7 linked regions of the Homo sapiens genome follow. The protein of the gene in region 5 interacts with the protein of the main gene of each other region in a biochemical or structural test. Each region holds a gene or a part of one and is shown on either strand. Other genes may lie near its edges. The genes, in order: SHKBP1, OR10G3, PRR16, LPAR1, TJP1, ATP2B1 and ABCA7.

Region 1 (3,500 bases), on a different chromosome or scaffold from region 5:
GCAGCCTGTCCTGCCCCACCCCCAGGTCCAGGAGGTGCAGCCCATCACCAGTTATGACGCGGCAGGCTCCTTCCTCCTCCTGGGCTGCAACAACGGCTCCATTTACTACGTGGGTGAGCAGCAGCCTGTGTCCCGGGTGCCCGAGACCCTCCCCTGGGAGAGGGGAAGGGAGGGAGAGAGGCTGGGGCACTTGGAACAAACCCGCTCCACCCTCCCTGCCCACCCCAGATGTGCAGAAGTTCCCCTTGCGCATGAAAGACAACGACCTCCTTGTCAGCGAGCTCTATCGGGACCCAGCGGAGGATGGGGTCACCGCCCTCAGTGTCTACCTCACCCCCAAGACCAGTAAGCTATGACCCGGCTTCCCCTGCTGCTGTCACCTGCCAGCCCCAGCCCCAGCCTGCAGCTGTCCCCCAACTTGTGTAGCATGACCCAGAGGGGTTTATCGAGGGGCGGCAGATTCAACTCTCTCTCATTTTTTTTTCTGAGACAGACTCTCATTCTGTTGCCCAGGCTGGAGTGCAGTGGTGCAATCTTGGCTCACTGCAACCTCCACCTCCTGAGTTCAAGCGATTCTCCTGCCTCAGCCTCCCAAGTAGCTAGGATTACAGGCGCCCACTGCCACGCCTGGCTAATTTTTGTAGTTTTAGTAGAGATGGGGTTTCACCATGTTGGCCAGGCTGGTCTTGAACTCCTGACCTCAGATGATCCTCCCGCCTCAGCCCCCCAAAGTACTGGGATTACAGACGTGAGCCACCGCGCCCAGCCAGATTCAACTCTCATCCAGTCATTCAACAAATATTTACTGAGTATCCCTGTATATAAGCACGTTCTAGGTGCTAGATGGTGGCCACCCTCTCCACTAGGGGCAGAATGGACCATTAGGAGTTAATCTTTGTGTTTCTTTCCCACCTTTGTGATTAAGGCATGATGTTCACATGTTCATAAAACAACACAGATGCAGGTTTTACAGCAGATGAACCTGAGTTCTCTTACTTGAGACAGTTTTTTGTTTTGTTTTCTTGACATCAAATGCAGAATGGGTTAATTTTTGAGACGTAATTCTCATACCATAAAATTTCCCATTTGAACGTGCACAATTCAGCGGATTTTAGTATATTCACAAGGTTGTACAACTATCACCATGAACAAATTCCAGAGTATGTTCATCACCCCCGTAAGAAACCCCCTGATCTTTAGCAGTAACTCCACATTTCTCACTTCTGATACCCTCTAGAAATCACTAATATGCTTTCTCTTTTTGTTTGAGACAAGGTCTCGCTCTGCTGCCCAGGCTGGAGTGCAGTGGCATGATCTCAGCTCACTGCAATCTCTGCCTCTTGGGTTCAAGCGATTCTCATGCCTCAGCTTCCTGAGTAGGGGAGGATTACAGGTGTGCATCACCATGCCTGGCTAATTTTTCTACTTTAAGTAGAGACTGGGTTACGCCACGTTGGCCAGGCTCAATATGCTTCCTATACCTATGGATTTGCCTGTTCTGGACAATTCCTGTAAATGGGATCATACATTATATGGTCTTTTGTGTCTGCATTTTTCACTTAGCATATTTTTTTAAATGGTTAGTGTTTTCTGGGTCTTAAGATATCCTTACCTATTCTAGGTTACAAAGATCTTCTCCTGAATTTCTTCTAGAAGATTTACAGTTTAGTTTTTACATGGAAGTCTGTTCTATCAGAAATTAAATTTTATGTATGGTGTGAAGCAGGGATTATTCTTTTTTAAAAAAAAATAGAGACAGGGTCTTGCTCTGTTGCCCAGGCTAGAGTGCAGTGGCATGATGTGAGTTCTCTGCCACCTCCGCCACTCGGGCTCAAGCGATTCTTCTACCTCAACCTCCTGAACAGCAGAACCACAGGCATGCATCACCACACCTGTCTAATTTTTGTATTTTTTTGTAGAGACAGGGTTTTGCCATGTTGCCCAGGCTACTCTTGAACTCCTGGGCTCAAGTGATCCTCACACTTTGGCCTCCAAAGTGCTGGAAATACAGACTTGAGTCACTGTGCTTGGCCATAGCTGCTGCTGCTGCTTTTCTTTTTTTTTTAAAGCAGAAATAAGTTAATAATACACCTAACTTCATGACACATTATCACCTTTCTTCTTTGTAAGGCCCTTTTCTTATTTCTTTTTTTTCTTTCTTTCTTTTTTTTTTTTTTTGTCTTTTCCTGAGACAGAGTATCGCTCTGTCATTCAACCCAGGCTGGAGTGCAATGGCGCAATCTCAGCTCACTACAACCTCTGCCTCCTGGGTTCAAGCAATTCTCCAGACTCAGCCTCCCAAGTAGCTGGGATTACGGGTGCCTGCCACCATGCCCAGCTAATTTTTGTGTTTTTAGTAGAGGCAGGGTTTTGCCACGTTGGCTAAGCAAGTTTTGAACTCCTGGGATTCTCCTCTCGTCGTCTCCCAAAGTGCTGGAATTACAGGCATGGGCTGCTGCACCCGGCCTCTTTCTTATTTCACTTACTTACTCATTTCCTCCTCATCTCCCTTCCCGCCACATGCCACTATTATGTCATTTTTCTTTGTTTTTTGAGACAGTCTCGCTTCGTCACCTAGGCTGGAGTGCAGTGGCGCAATCATAGCTCACTGCAGCCTCACCCCCTGGGCTCAAGTGATCCTCCTACTTCAGCCTCTTGAGTAGCTGGGATCATAGGTGAATGCCATCACACCCAACTAGTTTTTTAAAAATCTTTTGTAGAGATGAGGGTCTCACTATGTTGCCCAGGCTGGCCTCAAACGCCTGGCCTCAAGCAATCTTCCTGCCTCGGCCTCTGTTCTCTGTTTTACTTTCTCTTTCCTCTCTTATTTGCTGTTTCACTGTTACAATTTCTGTCTCTGGGCCTCTCCTCCTTTGACCTGTGCCTTTGTCTCCCTGTTCCTCCATTTCCCACATCTCATCACCATCTTTTTGTGTCCTTCCCTCTCTCCTTGCTTTCTGACTGTGTCTCTGTTCTGTGTCTCTTTCTTTCTTTCTTTCTTTTTTTTTTTTTGAGACAGAGTCACATTCTGTCATGCAGGCTGGAGTGCAGTGGCGTGGTCTTGGCTCATTGCAACCTCTGCCTCCTGGGTTCAAGCAATTCTCATGCCTCAGCCTTCTGAGTAGCTGGGATTACAGGTGCGTACTACCACCACCAGCTAATTTTTGTATTTTTACTAGAGACAGGGTTTCAGCACGTTGGCCAGGCTGGTCTTGAACGCCTGACCTCAAGCGATCCACCCGCCTCAGCTTCCCAAAGTGATGGGATTACGGCGTGAGCCACCGTGCCCGGCCTCTCCTTGCTTTCTGACTGTGTCTCTGTTCTGTGCCTGTTTCTTTCTCCCTGCCCTGGTTTCTGTCTCTGTGGCCCAGGCCCTCTCCTCATCCTTGGCCCCTCACCAGGTGACAGTGGGAACTGGATCGAGATCGCCTATGGCACCAGCTCAGGGGGCGTGCGGGTCATCGTGCAGCACCCGGAGACTGTGGGCTCGGGGCCTCAGC
Region 2 (3,950 bases), on a different chromosome or scaffold from region 5:
CCCATACAATGGCAGAGTTGAGTAGCTGCAACAGAGACTGTATGGTCCTCAAGGCCAAAAACATTTATTATCTGCCTCTTTAGAGAGAAAGTGTGCTTTCCTCTGCTTTAGACACTTTAACACAATTGTGGCTTGGAAGCTACAGAGACCTCCACAAAAGTTTGGTGGAAAAAATAATAAAACTAAACCATATTCAAGATGTTCTTTTACAACACAGACCATCTCTGGACATTTGAAGACAGTTGGGAAAAATGTTGCGACAACACCAAATTTAAGTCTAGAAGAAAATAAGTTAGACCAAATTCAAAGTATTCAAGGAAACAAGACCAAGAAATACTAAGAAAAATAACAGGCCGGGGGCAGTGGCTTGCACCTGTAGTCCCAGCATTTTGGGAGGTAGAGGGAGGAGGATCACTTGAGCCCAGGAGTTCAAGACCAGCCTGAGCAATCTAGTGAGACCTCGTCTCTACGAAAAATTTAAAAATTAGTCAGGTGTGGTGGTATGTGCCTGTAGTCCCAGCCACTTGGGAGGCTGAGGTGGAAGAATCGCTTGAGCCTAGGAGGATGAGGCTGCAGTGAGCCGTGATCACGTCGCTGCACTCCAGCCTGAGCGACAGAGCAAGACCCTGTCTCAAAAAATAAATAAATAAATAAAATTGTAAAATTAAAAAAGAAAAATCACTGTTCAGGGAGCTTGACTTAAAACATTACAGATGATAGTTGGATCAGATGACCTCTAATGTCCCTCCAACCCTGAAATTCTGTTTCTTCTAGTCTGTGAAGGTCTATGTTAGCACCTTAGTAATTCAAAGTGTGAATTTCTTAAAATGTGAATGCACCAATAAGAACACATCTCTTGCCAAGTAACAACCATGTTAGCTTTTTCTTCTCTTTTTTTCCAAATTTGCTTTGGAACAGAAAGAAAACCACAGATCTGAAGATTTCAACGAGACCTGTTAAGCCCCACAGACTTTGTCGCACCTGCTGTTACAAAATTGGAAAAAGCTAGAAACCCAGAGAGTCTCCTAGGAAACAAACTATGGATATTGGTCTTGCCTATCACAGGAGTGCTATTACAATATTCCCCAAGCTAAAGGTCTCACACATAAAAACTGACTCTGAGGGAAATAGAAGAAGTAGTAGAACACAGGAGAGACCAACCTTAACAGTTATCTTCAGTAAGAGCCACAGCTCCTCCCCCAGTTCATAAGGAAGCTGGAAGCAGATATCTCTACAAATAAGCAGGCAAATAATAAATTAAGTTTCCATAGTTTGACTCTTTACTTTGATCCAGCCAAAAGTAATTAGTTGGGTCTTCTGCCACGAGCTCTTCACAATAATTGCTGCTGACCTATGAGATATTCAAGATTCCTTAGGAATAGATTTGTATCCTTTCTCTCCGTCTGCAAGAAGAGTTTTTGATGGATGCTGACACCTTCAGGTGAGTTCCTCTTCTCAAAATAGCACCTGCCACTGTTCTAATCCCATTTTTCAGAGATAAATGTTAAGTCCAAACATTGTGTAAGGGGTTTCTCTACTCTGAGTCACTTCATCTCTCAATATTCTTACTTGTTTAGTTACTCAGTATAGTTCTTTTTCTGCTGTCACAAAAATTTTCTTTGCTGTTCTGCTCATATGACTATGTAACTACCATTTAGCCTTTTTATAAATAGTGGCTAATAGGCCAAGCATGTTGGCTCACACCTGTAATCCCAGCACTTTGGGATGCCAAGACGGGCGGATCACCTGAGGTCAGGAGTTCAAGACCAGCCTAACCAACATGGTAAAACCCCATCTCTACTAAAAATACAAAAATTAGCTGGGGGTGGTGGTACACGCCTGTAATCCCAGCTACTTGGGAGGCTGAGGCAGGAGAATCACTTGAACCTGAGAGATGGAGGTTGCAGTGAGCCAAGATGGCACAACTGCATTCCAGCCTGGGCAACAGAGAGAGACTCCATCTCAAAAATAAAAATTAAAATTAAAAAAATTAAAAAATTAAAAAATAGTGGCTAATATTGGATAACACTATTTCCCCCAGGCCTTTAATTGGCTAAATTTTTCTCCAAAGCTATTCTCCATTAAAAGTCCATTCACTGGTTTTAATACCAACCAGACTAGGAAGAGCATCTTCGAGTTCTGTGGTGGTGCCACCCTTGCTCTGTTCTTTTTGTCCTCACCAGGTCCCTTCCACCTATAAGACAAGTTCTCTGCCCAAAATTTGAAAAATGGACATGAGTAAAGCTATAACCTGATTTCTTTGTTGGCAAATATTTTAAACAGACAATTCTAACTCATTGCTAATAAGGGTTTTACATTTTAATAGAAATTGTCTCATGTCTCTCAATTTAATAACTCAAACTTTTCTCATATTATATATGTATATATTTGTTCCATTGTTATTCATCTTTAAATTATTTTCCATTTTATATGTCTTATTGTGAAATTTATTTTAAAAAGAAATTAATTATATTAGTTTTCCAAATATTTGAAATGCTTTTTATAAATAAAAAAGTGTGCTTTGAGTCGATTTTCAGAAAATAATAAAATTTTTAAAGTTTTCTTCATGGCCATTTGAAAGATGGGTTAGGGATACAGTTTGGGACCAGAATTAAGTAAAATTCATTTGCTGAAATGAGGTTAAGCCTGTGCCCTTCGCCTCATTAGAAAAGATGTCTAATCTCCTTGGTTGCTCAAAATTATACACTTTTATTTAGTTTGTGGTCCCCTAATATTTCTCATATATTTTTCAAACATTCATGTACTAGATGGTCTTTATTTTATTTTGTTTATTTATTATTTATTTATTTATTTTGAGATGGAGTTTCATTCTTGTTGCCCAGGCTGGAGTGCAATCGCACGATCTCAAGTCACTGCAACCTCTGCCTTCCGGGTTCAAGCTACTCTCCTGCCTCAGCCTCCTGTGTAGCTGGGATTACAGGCTCATACCACTATGCCCAGCTAATTTTTGTATTTTTAGTAGAGACGAGGTTTCACCATGTTGGCCACACTGGTCTCAAACTCCTGACATCAGGTGATCCACCAGCCTTGGCCTCCCAAAGTGTTAGGATTACGGGCATGAGCCACCGCGACCGGCCTCTAGATGGTCTTTAATATTTGATATCAGATGAGAATTCAAAAACACATTTAATCAATATATTCAAAGACTAAGTATCTGTGAAATAAAAACACTACTAAGCCTTCAGGCTTTTTTCTTTTTTTTTGAGTTGGAGTTTTGCTCTTGTTGCCCAGACTGGAACGCAATGGTGTGCTCTCAGTTCACTGTAATCTCAGCCTCCCAGGTTCCAGCGATTCTCCTGCCTCAGCCTCCTGAGTAGCTGGGATTACAGGCATGTGCCACCACACCACACTAATTTTGTATTTTTAGTAGAGACGGGGTTTCTTCACGTTGGTCAGGCTGATCACCCGACCTCAGGTGATCTGCCCGCCTCGGCCTCCCAAAATGCTGGGATTACAGGCGTGAGCCACCGCGCCCGGCCTCCCTCGGGCTTTTTTAAGAAACACTCAGTGTGATAGATTGTCAATGAAAGAAGTCGGGCAACTTCATGAATTCATTGTAACTAAACTTCACTCTAGTTTGATTTTAGAACTTGCTCTTAACTCCACTATGTCTCAATTTTGAAATAGGGTAGTAACACCAGTTTAGAATCCTTGACAGAATGAACCATAAAACTCTTAAAATTGTGATTCAGTTCACATGATTTACTACATTATTTTGATTTGGTTCCTTGTGGGAAGGAATTTTCAGTAAAATGTGGAAAGAGTGCTGGACTAGGAACAACACAATCTGGTTGGAGCCTTTACTCCAGCATTATACAGCTGTGAGACTCCTCTGCCATTTAACCTCTAAGGATTAAAAAACACTACACAGGTGCAAAATGCCACCATTATTCTATGACTTTTTATCACTCTGGTCCCCGGAGGTTTCA
Region 3 (3,515 bases), on a different chromosome or scaffold from region 5:
TTATTTGATGTTAGAAGGAAAGATTTCTTCTCTTTCTTTTAGAAGACAGCAACGGCCCATGGTATCTTTCAACTCTGAGGGGGAAAAACTTACGCCAAATGCTGAACACATCCTGATACCAGAAGCATTCAGATATCCCCCTATAATTCTCCTATAAATGTGGGTCCACTTGGGGAGGCAGAGAGCTTGCTAATGCAGGAGGCAAAACACCCTACAGCCTCAATGTAATAGTTTAGGGTACATCCTGGAAGAATGCTGAGTATGAGGAGGGCTTGGCAACATAGGGAGAGTTCAACAGAAGGCTCTTGAAGTACCAAATGGAAGTATAAAATATGTAGTGTGTAGATTTTGATTTATGATGTGGAATATGATATTTCATTTAGAAAATTCTGATATACACTCACTGTAACTTCTCCAAACTCTGTCAGATTTGCTGCCCATATTGAGGAATGTTAAGTGAGATTAAATGAACCACTACTTCATTTTAATTCTGAGGAACATTTGCTTTTGTCATTATTTACTATTGTTTATTGATTTAACAATATTTCCACAGACCAAAGTATTTTATTACATATATAGCTGAGCATGTAATTCATAATTGTATAATATAGAAAATAAACTTCTTGGTATTGGCCTCAGCATTTAATAATGAAAAACTAGTGACAAACATCTTTAGAAAAAAATAATAAAATAGTCCTTCAGTATTAAAATTTCCTAGTAAAAAGCATTAGATCAAAGTTAAGAATATGACATGTTAATGCATAGATGACTTAGGCATAAATAAAATGAATCAAATCCCAGCTCTTATAGTAAATCAAAATAGGTGAAATCTGCAGGTTCACAGTTTGTCATAGGTCAATTGCAAAAACAATGCATCATTCATATTTTTCATCATTCTGAGGTTTTTAATGATACAACATTTAAAATAATGCATACCCAGGATATAAGCAATGTGCTGCATACTTACCAGGTGATTTTTATGCCACTTTGCTGAATGCAGGATTAATATATTTGGGCTTTTTATTGCTTGAGTAGAAAGTGCTCATTACTTATTTTATGTTTATAATATAGAAAATTAAAAAAACAATTTTTTTAATGGCATACATCACACGGTTGTAGTGGTTGACTTCCTCAAGATCGTCTTCTGTGGTTTTGGTGCAGTGGGAGGAGGCACAGTTGCAGGTCTGATAGGGGGGAAGCTGTTACTGTGGCTTATTCCCATTCCCCCATTTTCTAGTGGGAAAGGAGGGAGATGGGGTGTAGGAGGGAGGGGAGGGCCTTGGTGAGGAATCTTTCCCGGTGGGTGGACAGGTTCACTGTGTAAGTGGACCTCCCTGTTTTTTATGTTATACCGGGTATCACAGTCAGGACAATAGCCATGGTACTGTACTTTTTCATTAAACCGAACTCGTTCTCGAGGCCCTGCCTGGGGACATCTGTCTTTTTCAGGTCTATGCATCAGAAGCTGGACTGGAGCCTTGTCCAAGTTACTGTTGGGTATGCAGCAGATATCTCCATTTGGAATTTTGTTAGGTCCACCTGGTAAGCCTCCATTTCGTAGAAGGGTGCCATTGGTTTTTACAGGATTGGCAGTTGGAACCACCCTTTTGGGGTCTTCACACTTCACAGGTGTCAACCTTGGAGGAGGTGGTGGAGGGTTTGGCTTTCTCAGGACCGTGAGGATAGCAGACGGGTGTGCTGGGGGTTTAATAAGCGGTGCATTAGCCTGCACTTTGATCTTCTCTAGGCTGGAGGCTGTTGTGCCACTTGAGCTACTATTCAGCGTGTCCGTTTTGGAGCTGTCAGTCATCTCATCCTCCAGCTGTAGGTCAGAGGTCAGGGTGTCAATCTGGTCAACCACCTAGTGGAAAGGACAAGGTAATTGTTTTGAAGAATGACCCAAACAAAGTATACTAGAAACAATTTATTTTTGTCTAGGGGAAATCTGCTATGGAAGCCTTAACTGATATTGAACTGAACATTCCATTGCTGCTTGATGTTTTCAGTCAATAAATTTACAGAATAGTGACCATCACACAGAGGACCAACTGTATGATAATATAATTTAACATGCTTAGAACATAACATATGATTTATATATACATTCTATTTCTGACTCTGATATACCCACCCATAAAATATGAAACCTGATGCAGGAATATAACTGATTTTTAAAAATAATCAGAGGGCATTTCCCTTCTGCTTAACATGCAGAAAGCTGTAGGAGAACATTGCTTCCAATCTTGAAATTAAAAAAAAAGATAATCTGCAAAATCATAATTTTCTTGAGACCAACAGAGACTTGACCTCACAAGGCAACCAAATGAACTCAACTGTTGAGAGTTTCAAGCCCTCTGAGGATATACAGAAAACATCAACTGTTCAACCTTTAGAAAATCACAGGAAAAAAAGGCAGCAACCATCAGAGTGAATGAAGAAAGCAACTAAAACTTTGATGACTAATTAAAGGTTGAATATGTGCTATTATGACAATTTAGAATCCTTGGGAGTCTCAGACACAGTATCATCTGTACTCACTCATGGCCTCCTTTACACAGACCTCTCATGCTGAGAGGAGGAAAGAGATGGAAGAGAGCCCCTGGTGGGCACACAGGCACAAAACCCCATTTACTTCTCAGACTGTTCTCCCTTATAAAGCAGAACCTTTACTGGTGCAGTAGCAAGAAACCCTCCAACCTGTAAGACACAGGCAAAGATATTTTGCTTCTGAGAGAGGGTAGAAGCAAAAGCTGTCTCGCCTTGGAGAAAGGGAAAGAAAATTATCTGGGCCCAGGACCCTAAACTAATACAAAGCAGATGTTTACTATCACTGGGTGAATGACAGGAAGTCACACCAGTCAAGGGCTACTACAGGTACCAGGCAGAGGAGCCAGGGACTCAGATAAGGCTGGCAGAGGCATCAGAGCATAAGACAGGTGGGAACCCACGTTAAGGAGAGAGGTTGTGAAGATAGGAACATTGAATGGAAGTATCTTAGACAATGCAGTTCTAAGGAGACTTTGGCAAGGATACTGGGGAGTCTGACATCTCCCATAACAGGGCAACCTTACTGTCTCTGCCCTGTTCAGTCATTGGCTGGGAGCAGCAGTGTGGTCACTGCTCAAATGCTGACTTTCAGAGTACAGCATCAGGGTCCTCAGTCATTTACACTCTGCATTCAGAGGTCTTGGAGGCCATTCTCATAGCCACCATACCTGCACTGTTATACACATATGAGAATGGAAAAGTTATGGATTGTTTTAAAAATAGTTTATGTAAGGAGACAGTTCCTTCATTTCACACATTTCCATCACATTTATTCCATATGGAGATTTTTCCCTCCTCTCTTACTTAGGTCTAAGTTTAATCAACTGTGAAGTTGGCTCTTTGTCACATGGTGGCAGGATTGGGCTCAAAATGAAAACACCAAAAGCATCTAGACGTTGGACAGGATATAGACTTTACTTCCTCCTCATGAGGCTCTTAAGTGATTGATTCCACCAGGCAGGTAAAGG
Region 4 (3,500 bases), on a different chromosome or scaffold from region 5:
AGGTAGTATATCAAGGTTTTATATAGATTTACTGAACAAAACAGATTGGAATTAATGATATTCTCTGACAGTCATCTTCATGAAAACTTCCTTATTTTCTATTAATTTTCTATTTGTAGTAGTGGAGGTTAATTCATATTTCAAGGTGAAGAGCAAGATTTGTAGACTCAAATACCTTCTGCTTTTAAATAAGCATTGTTTTTCTTGGATGAAAAATTCATAGTAGTGATCAAGAAGAATATATTCACTTATGTGTGTAGAAGGTAGTTAAAGAGCACCTACTATGTTCTACGCTCTGTGCTGGCTCCATGAAAAGGACAGATACAGACATTTCCTTTGGAGCTGAGAGTAGAGTGAGAGTTTTTTAAAATAATTACCCAATGGAATTATACATTCTCCATAGACTATATTCAGGTTAACGTTTGATCACATTAAAAAATCTTTTTTGAAAACCTTTTATCATTTCATCTTTCCCTATGGAAATTGAAAAAAAACATTTTATCACCTCCTCTTTCCCCACAGAAATTCAATGGAAAGTTCCTATAATTCTCTGTGCTCCAATTTATATAGCATTTTTGGGTGAATGTAACATGGGATTATGTGGCTCCTCTGAAACTCTGGGAATTACCTTAATTTTAGCCACTGGAAGGAGACAGGGTCCTGCTGATCATTATATAAAGTAGTATTCAGATTGATGCATAGGTCTCGTCTGTTTTGGTTAGGATGACTGCATCATGGACATCATTTTCAGCTATACTCATTGTTGACCCTCTTGTAGACCTGTGAGAATAGCAACTAAGCCTTGGGATCACTGACACACCTAAAACCCTGCCTAACTAACTGAAACACTGAGGACCCCATCACCTCAGATATGAGATTGTCTTATTGCATCCAATGAAGATTAGTAGAACTACAAAAATGGTTTCTCTGTATGTTTATTAACAGGACCTTAAGCACACCTGTGCCACAAGGCCACATTTTCCATGATGTGGATAAAACACATCTTTGTTTACCATGGATGCTATTTTTGTATGAAATAAAACATGAGACATTAAATAACATGAGACTTTTTTCCTGTATTGACTCAAATATTTATTTGCTGATGACCTAAATGTTGGTTGACATTTTTTATATGCATGAACTTTTTCTATTACGACAAGTGCTACTCATAGTTTGCAGAATTGCCAGCAGCAAATGACTACTGAACTTGGACTATTAACCTGCCAAGTTCTTGTTTTAATTTTGACCTTTGTATAATATCTTGTGTATTCCAGTGTGCAATGTACTGAATGATTCACATACTTTTGTGCCTCTTTGGGTTGTTTTTCAGGTTGAAATAATCATTTTGAGGCTATAGGAGCTAGTGTTTCAGTGTACATTTGCCCTAAATGCCACTTTCCCATGCCCAACTACTACCACTGCACAACCACTAACTTTAAAATAACAGAAATAATATTTAAACTAGTATACTCCACAAAGATCGAATGCAGTTGACATCTCTGGAATAAAGAGCATGATTTTTAAAGCTGTGAGATGGAAGAACTTTCAGAACATGGAAAACCCCGTCACGGTGATAGGTGAAGGTATTTGGTGAAGAAAGATGGGAATAAGATTGTAATATAGGAAACAGAAATTAAATGGACCGTAGCCTTTTTGAGAAAAGTAGCAAGAATAAGAGAATGGGCAGGATGTGGGCAGGGAGTGGTTGGAAAGTTTAGAATGGGGAAGTCACAATCCTAACAGATGTTTTTCAAGGCGTGGTGCCTAATGCCATTCCTACAGTATGCTCCCCTATTTGAATTGTAAGTGTCCATCCTTAGATAGGCACGGTTACATGGGAGACATGGGTTGGTCTTGTCATAATGTAGGCAAACCCCAAAATTGGGGCTCAGCCTGGGGGAGTTCTTGGCTCTGCCCAGGAAAGAATTCAAGAGTGAACCAACAGTGAAAGAAAGCAAGTTTGTTAGCGTAACAGTGTACAGCCAAGTGACCACTCCAAAGGCAGAGCAGGGCTATCTCATAGGCAGGGTAGCACAGAACAGCACTAATGGATTGCTGGCTAGTTATATTTATACCCATTCTTTTTTCTTTTTCTTTGAGACAGGGTCTTGCTGTATCACCCAGGCTGGAGTGCAGTGGCATGATCTTGGCTCATTGTAGCCTGGACCTCCTAGGCTCCAGCAGTTCTCCCACTTCAGCCTCTCAATTAGCTGAGATTACAGGTGCATACCACCACACCCAGCTACCCAGATTTTTTTTTTTCTTTTTTCTTTTTTTTTTGTAGAGATGGGGTTTTGTCATGTTGCCCAGGCTGGTCTTGAGCTTCTGGGTTCCAGTGATCTTCCTGCCTTGGCCTCCCAAAATGCTGGGATTGCAGGCATAAGCCACCATGCCTGGGCCCCCACTCTTAATGCTAAATATAATTAAACAGGTTATTCATGAACTTCCTGGAAAAGGGGTGGGGAGTTCCTGAAACCATGTAAGGTTAACTTCCAAGTCATTGCCATTGCATTTGTAAACCGTCATGGTGCTGGTAGGAATGTCTAATGCAAATGTATTATGATTCCTGGTCCTTGCTGGTTTGGATTGGTTTCTTTGCTACATCCTGTTTTGATCAGCAGCGTTGTGAAAACAAGTCCTGCTGGTCTCCCACTTCAGTAGGAACAAGAATTCTGGTCTACTCGAAGTTCTTCTCTTTGTAAATTAGTCCATTGATAATCTGGTTATTTTACTTTAGTTTGTGTACATTTGGTTTTTAGTATTTGTCTTCACTGCCAGATTGCCAGGTTTGTGAGGGCAGGCAGGATTGTAATGATTGTTTGTTTTCTCCACGTTGCCACATTGCCTGTCACGGCTATCTGGTACAAAGTAGGTAGTCAATAAATGCTGAGGGAATGCATGTGATGACAAAACCAAGTTTCTCTGCCTTCAAAACTGAAGACCAGAGCCGTAGTGAATTCACTACAGTAAATGCCACTTTATTCAGCTATGTGGGAGCCAAACCTAGCGACACCTTTATGTTCTATGCCTTCTAAAATACAACAGCCTGGAAAACTCCTGGCTACAATGGGTGCTCAGTAAATAATATGTTTGTTTTACTTCCATTTATTCTGGGAATGATTACTCAGTTTCCATTTTCACTTCATCAAAATGATCCCTGGGTTTTAGACCTATTCAGTCTTCATGATCAAAAGAAGAATTTGTTGGTCAGCAACTGACTTGTTATGAGTCAAGTTATATTAAAATAAAGTCATCTTTGAGATTAATAATGGGCAATACCAATGGCTGGTTTTTAAGCATGATCTTGTATTAAGCTGCTTTTGAGTGAGTACTGGATCTTAATAATTATTTTTAGTTGTGAAATACTTATTTGGCATAAATCATGTGCTACCTTAGAAATTAGTATTTGTAAATTACAACCCTATGGCGTATAGGTACTGTTATTGATTTGTTATCCTTATTTTCCAGTTGATAAAAACTGAGGTAAGGAGAGGTTAGGT
Region 5 (3,500 bases):
GGGTTAAATTCCTGGTCAGTTCTATGCCACAAAGAGCACAAAGTGTACTCACCTGTACAGAGTTTTGTCATGTTCACTGAATTGATTCTGAGAAGTGGGTTTGGGACCAATGATGGGAGCACCTGAAGGTTTAGATGCTACTTCTGGAGGCTGTTTAAAAAAAAAAAAAAAAAAAAGACAAATATGCCTAAGGAACAGATAATTAACAGAATAGATATCATGTAATGGCGGAGGGGAGAGCCAAGAAGCCTTTTAAACGGTGTGCCCATGCATCCAAGGCACTAAAGACATATTTACCTTAAAACTGCCAGTGTCATTTACATCCTTCTTGGTCTCTAAGGATGCAGATCTTTTGTTTTCAAACATCTTAACTCTGGTGAGTACAGACTGTGGCTTCATTGCTGGATCTTCCTCTTCTTCGGTTTGAGTTGGGGGTGGAGGCAGTGGTTTGGTGTTTGAAGGCAGAGCTTCTGGCTTATGCTGAGATGAAGGTATCAGCGGAGGGACAGCTGCAGCACCATGGAGAGGCTCAAAATGACCTGCTCTAGAGGTAAATCCTTGGGGTGGTACTTGCTCGTAACTGCGTGAATATTGCTCAAAATACTGCTTGGACTCTGCAGGCTTGGGCCCTGCTGAAGGGTGGGGCTGGGCTTCCGGTCTGAGTCTACCATGTGTGTCATACCCAGGAGCTGGCTGCTCTTCGTGCCGCAGGGCGGATGCTCTAGGTGCCTGTTCGTAACGTGGTCTGCTGTCGTAAGACAGAGGGGCTGGCTCTTCAAAACGTGGAAAGTACCCTCGTTCTGAGGACTCTTCGGGATGCTGTCTGGAGTCAAGGTCTTGAGAGTGCTGATTATCAAAAGGTGGCCGAGATGGGTAGGGCTGTTTGTCATCATAATATGACCACTGTTCTTCATACATGGGGACGCGATCTTCGTATCGCAGACGATGTTCATAGTTTCGAGAAAACTGGTCCGTATAGCTTGAGGACTCGTATCTGTATGTGGGCTGCTCGAGGTCTCTGCTGGCTTGTTTCTCTACGTATGGGAGTTGGGGTTCATAGGTCAGATTAGGCTCTTTGTCTGGCCTGTGCCCTGGGTGACTAACGGCTGGCTGTTTCAAAACATGGTTCTGCCTCATCATTTCCTCGGGATATGGATCCTTTCTATACACCTGTATAAAAAATTCACATTTAAGGACAAAGTCTTGTTTCTAATTCTAGTCTATTTTATTAGACTGTGATTAAATATTAAACTACGATTTAATATGTGAAAATGGTATGTTTTACCATTTATTATCAGGATAGACAAGATTAGTGGAAAAAGCTGGTTTAAGTGAAAGCTCAAAATTTATAATGCAGGTAGGGGCTTTTATGTTTCAGCATGTACTAAATAAACAGTGAGTTAAAGATAAATATTAAATTTAGTAGAAAATTAATGCACTATTGATTACACTTCATTTTGACACTGAAAAATCCTAAAGAAGATTTATGGGCATCATAATTTGTATTAACATAAATATGTTTATGATGGGTTTCGATTACATATTAAGGAATTCTGGAAGATACTGAAAGCCAAAAATAAAAATAATAAGCACAAATCTCAATTAAAAGGCCTGTTTTCAAATAATCAGTATACCAATGGAAGCCATGCAAACTACGAAACTGAAATGATTTGTATTGATTTGAAAGCATTACAGTGTATAAGCCTGCAGTAAAAAAGCAAAAGGAACACTTAAAGGGCAAAGCAAAAATGATCATGTGCCAGATTGATGGACAGCAACAAATTAGTGCAACACCGCAGCACAGGTACCTTTGTTGGATCTACATGCGACGACAATGATGGTTCTTGATCTCTTAGCATTATGTGAGCTGCCTCAGTACTTGGTGTTCTTAAAGAATCAGCTTGTGGTGAGTAAGAGGTGGAAGGAGCTGGGGTGGGCTCCTCCAGTCTGACATTAGTTAAATTTACATTATGATTAACAGCAGAGGTTGATGATGCTGGGTTTGTTTCAGGCGAAAGGTAAGGGACTGGAGATGAAGCTTCTGCTTTCTGTGAAGTGTTTAAAATATTTTAAATATAGTGTTTCTGTTTACTGCTAACTTTCCACTTCAATTTATAGTGATTGGTAGACATACATTTTAAGTGTGCTGAATAACAAAATTATGACCTCATGTCCTAAACTTTTTGGGAAAAAAAAAAAATCCAGTACATTGCTGTGTTAAGACAAACACACAAAATTTAGAATTAAGCCCTTGGTACTCTCAAATTGAAATTGAAGATTAATTCTTAATCTGGAGAAAGGACAACATATATATTTTTAACTCAATCACCACATTCTAAAATTTAATAATGCACCTCTATCTACAAAACGTTGAATGCTTGCTGCTTACCTGTTGAGAGGCTGGCTTAAATCCAGGGGAGTCTATTCTATGAATTGGTTGTGGCTGCGCTTGTGGTGAGTAAGGAGGATATGTTTGGTTTTCATGATGCATTCCAGAGGAGTCCTCTCTTACAGGCTCAGAGGACCGTGTAATGGCAGACTCCGGTGGAGTCCCAACCTCATCATTAAGAGTTTCATCTAGTTCTTGATCAGTGTAGGCCCCGCCTTCTGTGTCTGTGTCTTCATAGTCAGAAGTGTGTCTACTGTCCGTGCTATACATTGAGTATTCACTACCTGGAGCTGACAGGTAGGACAGACGATCATCATGCAAATCAAGGTCATCACTTGTAGCACCATCCGCCTGGGTCAAATAAAAGTAAATTACAAATTTTATTCAGTAGTTCTTTAAGAGATGGCCTTTATCGTACAAGGCAGATTGAAAAGGATATCTTTCTCTGGAGAAGTCACATCTACTTCTTGAAACTTCTGGTAAGGAAAAGTCAAGAAGATTGTACAAGCACACACGCAGACACATGGAGCACCCCTTGAGATCTGAAGGGCATGGATGAAGGAAACAGTGGCCGGTAAGCCAGGACAAAGTTAGACTCCAGGGCCCAGCCCTGGAAGACAACGAAGAAACTCTGACACTGCTCAGATTTATAAAACCTACTCACTAGCTCTTCAGCCCTTTTAAGCAAGGGGAAGAGGGAGAATGTTACCAAACTAAGCTCACAGAAACAAGGACACACTGACAGAATAGCACATGGAAGAATACCTATGAAATAAACCCAACAGTTCAAAAGTTGAATAAGAGCTAATATATTTATGTTTAGGAAACAACTGATATGGTTTGGATTTGTGTTCCCACCCAAATCTCATGTTGAATTGTAATCCCCAGTGTTGGGGGAGGGGCCTGGTGGGAGGTGACTGGATCATGGGGGTGGTTTCTAATGGTTTAGCACCATCTCCCTCACACAGTCTTGTGATAGAATTCTCCCAAGATCTGTTTTTTTAAGTGTGCAGCACCTCCCCAACTCTCTTCCTCCTGCTCCAGCCATATAAGACATGCTTCCTTCCCCTTCCGCCACGATTGTAAGTTGCCTGAGGCCTCCCCAGAAGCA
Region 6 (3,145 bases), on a different chromosome or scaffold from region 5:
AGCAGAGCTTTAGTTTATCTCAGTCCTGGATGGGAGAGAGAGGGAGGAGTAAAACTGGGCAAGACAAAGAGCCCTGGATCGTTGAATTGATAGTTTAATTTCTGCTGTTGGCTGTTAATAATTTGGATTATTTATGTTTATAAATGATACAGATCTGTTTACAAGGTTTGTAGATACTTTTTTTGTTCCTGTTCATAGATGGGAAGCTTCCTTATAACTGATGCAGAGAAAAATTAGTCCTTCAAATACTGCTGTATTTTCAGGAAAAAAAAAAAAAGGGGTGTTTCTATTGAAACTGTACTAAATTTTTGCCTACAATTTACCTTGTTAAATATTGTAGATAAATTGCTAATACTAATAGCCAAATAGATAACACTAATGCTTTGTTTAAAAAAACGAAAAAAACAAAACAAAACAAAAAAACATGAGCAGTGGTGTTCTAATGAAGTTATGACATCTGTCCTAATTAGTTTCTTAAATACATTTACTACTTAATGGTTTTGAAGCAACTGTTTAATTTTTAAAATTTTTGAAAACTTGCTAATAACCTTTTGTTCAGAATTTAGTAGATTGTTTAATGCAGGACATCAACTACATAATGAAAGATGCTTGAAATGCTTTTGTTATTTCAGGCAAATCAAATTAAATCAGACTATCAAACTACAAGAGAACCTTAGTCTTTTTTGTTTTTGTCTAAACATGTTAGTTTAGTGATGTCTTGGTGAACTGTGAGTGAACTGTATTGATTTTTCTAATCTTTAGAGACCTTCACACAGCATGAGGGCTGTTGGCATTTTGAAAAAGGTTAATAAGTAGAAGCATACATGTTTTCCTTTTGTTTTTGAAACTTGTTTGTAAACATAAATAAATATGCCCTTTTATTAAATAAATTCATGGCAATGTTTTTTTAAAAGACATTTCAGCTTCTTTACTCAGTTCTGCATATACAGTGCATCAGTCTGTTCTCTTTGACCACAATTGGAATACATTTCAAGATGGTAACAGCCCCATGAAGTACCGCTTTAATTCCTTGCTGGTAATCTAATAGAATCAGATTAAGAAAATTAACACAATTTTACCATTTGACATACTCTTCATTGAATTTAGTTTGTCTAAAATAGTCTCACAGGTAAAAAACATAACAACAATGACCACCATTGTCTTTGATACATTTATTTTAATTCTTAAGTGGCCAAATAACAGATTAGGTAAAATGAGATTACATGAAAAGGTTCTAAAATGATATATTTAGATGCAATAATTAACCATATGCTAGAATGCCCACCTCTAAGCCAATTGGATTCTTTAGCTCTCTTTTTCTTTCCTTCATCTACCTTCTTCTCTTTTTTGCCTCTGTCTTTACCCTTTAGAAACTGGCATGTGTTAGGGCCCAGATTTCACCAGATACACAATCCTCAGGCTGACATAAAGTTTACGAGGACTGCTACTATAACTGAGAGTGCTGACCAAGCAAAGAAACATTTAGTTGATGGTGCTTGATATTTTTGGTGGGTGGGGGAAATCTTTTTCTCACCATCAAATCTTTGCAGTAATCCTCTGCAGGTCTTAGAAACACATTGGCTCTGTCAGCATTTGTAATTGTACATTTATTCATCAGGTATTTATAGTGAATCATACTGTAAAAAAGAGGTAGCATGATATGCTGGAAAGCATATTAGACTAGGAGTCAAGACCTGGTTTCTAGTCTTGGTTTTGCCATTAATGTGCTGCATGATCTTGGGAAAATCATTTACCCTAAATAAGGGTGGTGGACTATCTTGAAGAACCCTTTCAACTCTAAAAATTGACCCTATCAACTGGAGAGCCCACAAGGCATAGGGAATAGAGAAAAGGGAAATGTTTTCAGTTTTCTTTTTTATTTTGGTTATGCTTAAATATGAATGTAATTACCAAAAGATTTAGAAGTGCATGTGCTTTGGAGGATTTGTATTGAGCTTTTACAGTATTCATTTTTCAACTCAAGGCAATGGCTTTCTACACCAACTCTAATCCATAAACGGGTCTTATGACATCTATGAAGTAGTAGCAAGACATGCTTAGTGTGTATTTCTCTCTTTGAGACACTGTAATTTCTACCAGAAATTTCCAGAGCATTATGTAGGTAGAAAAAAATGCAAGCAAGCTGTTAAAGATCTTGGATCCCATTATATAGTATGTATAGCTGAAATCTGTAATTCAATCACTTTTTCTCTTTTATCCTCTAACCAAAAAATTGTTTAATTTTGCATCCCAAATGTTTTTAATCTTTGTATATTTTTTAAAAATCCTTTTCTCCTCATCATTGCCTTTTTTGTGGTTGTAAATAGACTTACTTGCACTTTGAAGATGAGTTACTCCTTGTCATCTTACAAATATGTGATATGGTAATTTTCATAACAGATGTCAGTTTTGAACCAAGAATTGGTGATTTGTTTATAAGAAAAAAACTGGCTTCATTTCTGTGAAATTGCTCTTTGAAAATTTCTTTTTACACGTGTAAGCCAACTGAGATACCGTGATGGTGTTGATTTCTTTCAATGATGCTTACCATCTATTTTAGCCACTGAGCCTTTTATTATTTGTCTATTTGTAAAGTTTATTTGTCTTAACTCATTTAATAAATATACTGTTTATCTGTTTCTGAATGGGGACTGAACTTTTTGGATATTGATATTGATTTGAAAATATTTTGGAATTTTTTCTACTTGAAATTTTAGAAATCTAATTGAAAATTCTATAATGTACTTGAAATGTTATGGTTGTGTTACAGTGAATCACTCTTCTAATAATATGCATGATCTTGCCTCTAAAATGAGAGTGGGTACATTGTCCCTACTCTCCAACCCACTGTCCTCAACCCTTATAGCACAATAGATCATTTCTGCAGTCTATGGGAATGTAATCTGCTGGTTTTAGTACAGATTAGTTTTTCACATTAGCTGTAAGAGCTTATTTTTATTTCATTATCCATACTTGTCAATACCAGTTATCTGAACTCTATGGTAAAAATTAATAAAATTATCCATAGTTGTTTTTTATAATAAGTTATTAATATAAACTAGCAACTTTGTTGAAATACTGAGTAAACTTTAAATGATGATGAATACCATATTTTTCAGTTAGTATAAATCATTAGTAAATTATT
Region 7 (3,500 bases), on a different chromosome or scaffold from region 5:
TGGGGGCCCAGCCACTGCTTGCCACTGCCCTGTCTGGCCCCTTGTAGGCAGGGGCTTGTCCAAGATGGCCTGGGTAAAGTCTTGAGGATTGTGGGAGACTTTGTGCCTTCCTACTCAAAAAGCAAGGAGGTCAGGGTGGGAACAGGGCTGAGGGTGGCAGTGCCCACCTCTTTAGGCTGATAAAGGTAACTGCCATCTCCAATGCAGTGTAACTACTTGGTGCCAGCATGCATCGTGGTGCTCATCTTTCTGGCCTTCCAGCAGAGGGCATATGTGGCCCCTGCCAACCTGCCTGCTCTCCTGCTGTTGCTACTACTGTATGGGTGAGGCCCCCAGTCCCTCAGGGCCTATTCTTACTGACCCCTTACTGCCTTCCACATTAATGCTGCTGAGATAGAACTCTGCAGTGACTCCCAAGGAGAGGATATGGAGGTCTGAGGTGATGCCGTGTGTGATCCAATTCAGTGGTGTGCCAAGGTGGCCTTAAAAGCTCATCTTATCCTGACTCATATTAGTAGAGTTCTAAGGCAGCCCATGCCTGTAATTCCAGTACTTTGGGAGGCCGAGGCAGGAGGACTGCTTGTGGCCAGGAGTTTGAGACCAGCCTGGGAAACATAGAGAGACCCACCTCTAAAAAAGAAAGAAAGAGAGAGAAAGAGAAAGAGAGAAAGAAAAAAAAAAAAACAGAAATGTGCTTTGGGTGAAAATGTCAAGGTCTAAGGCAGAGAAGATGGGAATGGAGATTTTTATTCCTCTCAGGGCTTCTCAGTCTGAGTGGTTACTCCAGTGACTCCTATTGTCCCTTCAGCTGGTCGATCACACCGCTCATGTACCCAGCCTCCTTCTTCTTCTCCGTGCCCAGCACAGCCTATGTGGTGCTCACCTGCATAAACCTCTTTATTGGCATCAATGGAAGCATGGCCACCTTTGTGCTTGAGCTCTTCTCTGATCAGGTGGGGCACCACGAGGCTGGGGCTTGGGCTGGGTTGGGTCGTTGGACTCAGCCCCTGACCAACATCCGTCTCCCACCCTTGAGCAGAAGCTGCAGGAGGTGAGCCGGATCTTGAAACAGGTCTTCCTTATCTTCCCCCACTTCTGCTTGGGCCGGGGGCTCATTGACATGGTGCGGAACCAGGCCATGGCTGATGCCTTTGAGCGCTTGGGTGAGAACTTCCTGTCAGGTGGGGCCATGGCTACAGATAGCTAGCACCCTTGGAGACCTAGAGTTAATTATACAGAGTGGAGAAAAACAGCCCCCCAGGGAGACAGCCAGGGTTCTTAGGTGGCCCTAAGGTTGGGCCAAGTTGGAGGTACAAGAAAGCAGCCATAAAAAGCTAATTCTTAGATTACATCACAAGAGGCCTCTTCTGTTTTCTATGCCAATTAGACTCCAGCTGAGTGGCCTATCCAATTTGTGTTCCTTTCCCTTAAGAATCCAGAGTGACATGGATGGAGAAAGGGCCAGAAACCAAGACTCTCATGGACCCAGTCCCTCCTTTCTATATCCACAGGAGACAGGCAGTTCCAGTCACCCCTGCGCTGGGAGGTGGTCGGCAAGAACCTCTTGGCCATGGTGATACAGGGGCCCCTCTTCCTTCTCTTCACACTACTGCTGCAGCACCGAAGCCAACTCCTGCCACAGTTAGTGAGGTCTATGGAGAGGGTGGCAGGGGCCAAGGACCTACTTTAAGCCCACAGATATTCTGTCCCCAGGCCCAGGGTGAGGTCTCTGCCACTCCTGGGAGAGGAGGACGAGGATGTAGCCCGTGAACGGGAGCGGGTGGTCCAAGGAGCCACCCAGGGGGATGTGTTGGTGCTGAGGAACTTGACCAAGGTAGGTGTGGTCAGGTCGACTGCTGGGTGGGGGGTGCTCCCACTGGCCCACTCACCTTTCTGAAAGACCTGCACTCTCCCAGGTATACCGTGGGCAGAGGATGCCAGCTGTTGACCGCTTGTGCCTGGGGATTCCCCCTGGTGAGGTGAGTCCAGGGGTGGAGGCCAGGTGCAGGGACAGTGAGTGGCTGCCCTACTGCATGCCCTGCCCATCATCCTTTACTGAACACCTACTGTGTATCCACCACCTTTTATTGGGCACCTACTGTATGCCAATATTTGTGCTCCTATTTTTATTTTATTATATTATTATTTATTTATTTATTTATTTATTTATTTATTTGAGATGGAGTCTCACTCTGTCTCCCAGGCTGGAGTGCAGTGGTGGGATCTCAGCTCACTGCAAGCTCCACCTCCCGGGTTCATGCCATTCTCCTGCCTCAGCCTCCCGAGTAGCTGGGACTGCAGGCGCCCACCACCACGCCCGGCTAATTTTTTTGTATTTTTAGCAGAGACGGGGTTTCACCGTGTTAGCCAGGATGGTCTCCATCTCCTGACCTCGTGATCCACCCGCCTCAGCCTCCCAGAGTGCTGGGATTACAAGCGTGAGCCACCACACCTGCCCTATTTTATCTTTTTTTAGAGACGGAGTCTCACTCTGTCGCCCAGGCTGGAGTGCAGTGGTGAGATCTCGGCTCACTACAAGCTCCACCTCCCGGGTTCACACCATTTTCCTGCCTCAGCCTCCCAGGTAGCTGGGACTGCAGGCGCCTGCCATCACGCCTGGCTAATTTTTGTATTTTTAGTAGAGACAGGGCTTCACCATATTAGCCAGGATGGTCTCGATCTCCTGACCTCATGATCCACCCGCCTCAGCCTCCCAAAGTGCTGGGATTACAGGCGTGAGCCACTGCGTCTGGCCTGTGCATTTATCTTGAGCCAACAAAACCTCATTAAGCACCTACTGCATGCTTACCTCTGTTAAACACACACTGTGCTCACTAAAGAGGTGTACTGAATACTTTTGTGTCCATCAACGTTTATCAAATACCAATAGAATTTATTGGACCCCTATTGTATACACATCTACATCAAGCACTTGCTCACAGCCAGCATTTATCAGGCACCTGCTTTGTACCAGTTCACATTCAAGCACCTACTATATACAAATGTATTTGCTGTGTGCCACTTATTGGCCACCTACTAGGGCTGGTACACATCTGCAAACAAGTGCTGTTTGTTAGCACACATTGCAGTATATATATATATTTTTTTTTCTTTTTTTTTCTTTTGAGATGGAGTCTCACTGTCACCCAGCTTGGTGTGCAATGGTGTAATCTTGGCTCACGGTAACCTCCGCCTCCCAGGTTCAAGCGATTCTCCAGCCTCAGCCTCCCGAGTAGCTGGGACCACAGGCACATGCCGCCATGCCCAGCTGATTTTGTATTTTTAGTAGAGACGGGGTTTCACCATGTTGGCCAGGCTGGTCTTGCACTCCTGACCTCAAATGATCCACCCACCTTGGCCTCCGAAAGTTCTGGGATCACATGTGTGAGCCACCATGCCCGGCCTTTGTTTTTTTCTTTTTTTTTTTTTTTGAGACAAAGTCTCGCTCTGCCACCCAGGCTGGAGTGCAGTGTCACGATCTCGGCTCACTGCAACCTCTG

The links.
Region 1: the proteins of TJP1 (region 5) and SHKBP1 interact in a test that uses a peptide from one of them, tested with the Homo sapiens proteins (one large-scale study listed by IntAct).
Region 2: the proteins of TJP1 (region 5) and OR10G3 interact in a test that uses a peptide from one of them, tested with the Homo sapiens proteins (one large-scale study listed by IntAct).
Region 3: the proteins of TJP1 (region 5) and PRR16 interact in a test that uses a peptide from one of them, tested with the Homo sapiens proteins (one large-scale study listed by IntAct).
Region 4: the proteins of TJP1 (region 5) and LPAR1 interact in a test that uses a peptide from one of them, tested with the Homo sapiens proteins (one large-scale study listed by IntAct).
Region 6: the proteins of TJP1 (region 5) and ATP2B1 interact in a test that uses a peptide from one of them, tested with the Homo sapiens proteins (one large-scale study listed by IntAct).
Region 7: the proteins of TJP1 (region 5) and ABCA7 interact in a test that uses a peptide from one of them, tested with the Homo sapiens proteins (one large-scale study listed by IntAct).

Annotation. Positions count from the first base shown.
Region 1 is NC_000019.10:40,583,373-40,586,872, forward strand, and holds part of SHKBP1 (SH3KBP1-binding protein 1), read left to right. Parts: intron 1-25; coding exon 26-113; intron 114-228; coding exon 229-345; intron 346-3,371; coding exon of another isoform or gene 3,372-3,401; coding exon 3,402-3,500.
Region 2 is NC_000014.9:21,577,277-21,581,226, reverse strand, and holds the start of OR10G3 (olfactory receptor 10G3), read left to right. Parts: upstream 1-1,150; 5' UTR 1,151-1,441; intron 1,442-3,950. UniProt on the Homo sapiens protein: Odorant receptor.
Region 3 is NC_000005.10:120,684,300-120,687,814, reverse strand, and holds the end of PRR16 (protein Largen), read right to left. Parts: intron 1,862-3,515; coding exon 1,106-1,861; 3' UTR 501-1,105; downstream 1-500. UniProt on the Homo sapiens protein: Regulator of cell size that promotes cell size increase independently of mTOR and Hippo signaling pathways. Acts by stimulating the translation of specific mRNAs, including those encoding proteins affecting mitochondrial functions.
Region 4 is NC_000009.12:110,937,471-110,940,970, reverse strand, and holds part of LPAR1 (lysophosphatidic acid receptor 1), read left to right. Parts: exon of another isoform or gene 1-1,059; intron 1,060-3,500.
Region 5 is NC_000015.10:29,717,969-29,721,468, forward strand, and holds part of TJP1 (tight junction protein 1), read right to left. Parts: intron 2,741-3,500; coding exon 2,390-2,740; intron 2,049-2,389; coding exon 1,809-2,048; intron 1,171-1,808; coding exon 298-1,170; intron 151-297; coding exon 53-150; intron 1-52. UniProt on the Homo sapiens protein: TJP1, TJP2, and TJP3 are closely related scaffolding proteins that link tight junction (TJ) transmembrane proteins such as claudins, junctional adhesion molecules, and occludin to the actin cytoskeleton.
Region 6 is NC_000012.12:89,587,549-89,590,693, reverse strand, and holds the end of ATP2B1 (plasma membrane calcium-transporting ATPase 1), read left to right. Parts: 3' UTR 1-2,645; downstream 2,646-3,145. UniProt on the Homo sapiens protein: Catalyzes the hydrolysis of ATP coupled with the transport of calcium from the cytoplasm to the extracellular space thereby maintaining intracellular calcium homeostasis.
Region 7 is NC_000019.10:1,057,107-1,060,606, forward strand, and holds part of ABCA7 (phospholipid-transporting ATPase ABCA7), read left to right. Parts: intron 1-207; coding exon 208-323; intron 324-759; coding exon of another isoform or gene 760-808; coding exon 809-953; intron 954-1,039; coding exon 1,040-1,163; intron 1,164-1,511; coding exon 1,512-1,641; intron 1,642-1,713; coding exon 1,714-1,834; intron 1,835-1,916; coding exon 1,917-1,979; intron 1,980-3,500. UniProt on the Homo sapiens protein: Catalyzes the translocation of specific phospholipids from the cytoplasmic to the extracellular/lumenal leaflet of membrane coupled to the hydrolysis of ATP. Transports preferentially phosphatidylserine over phosphatidylcholine.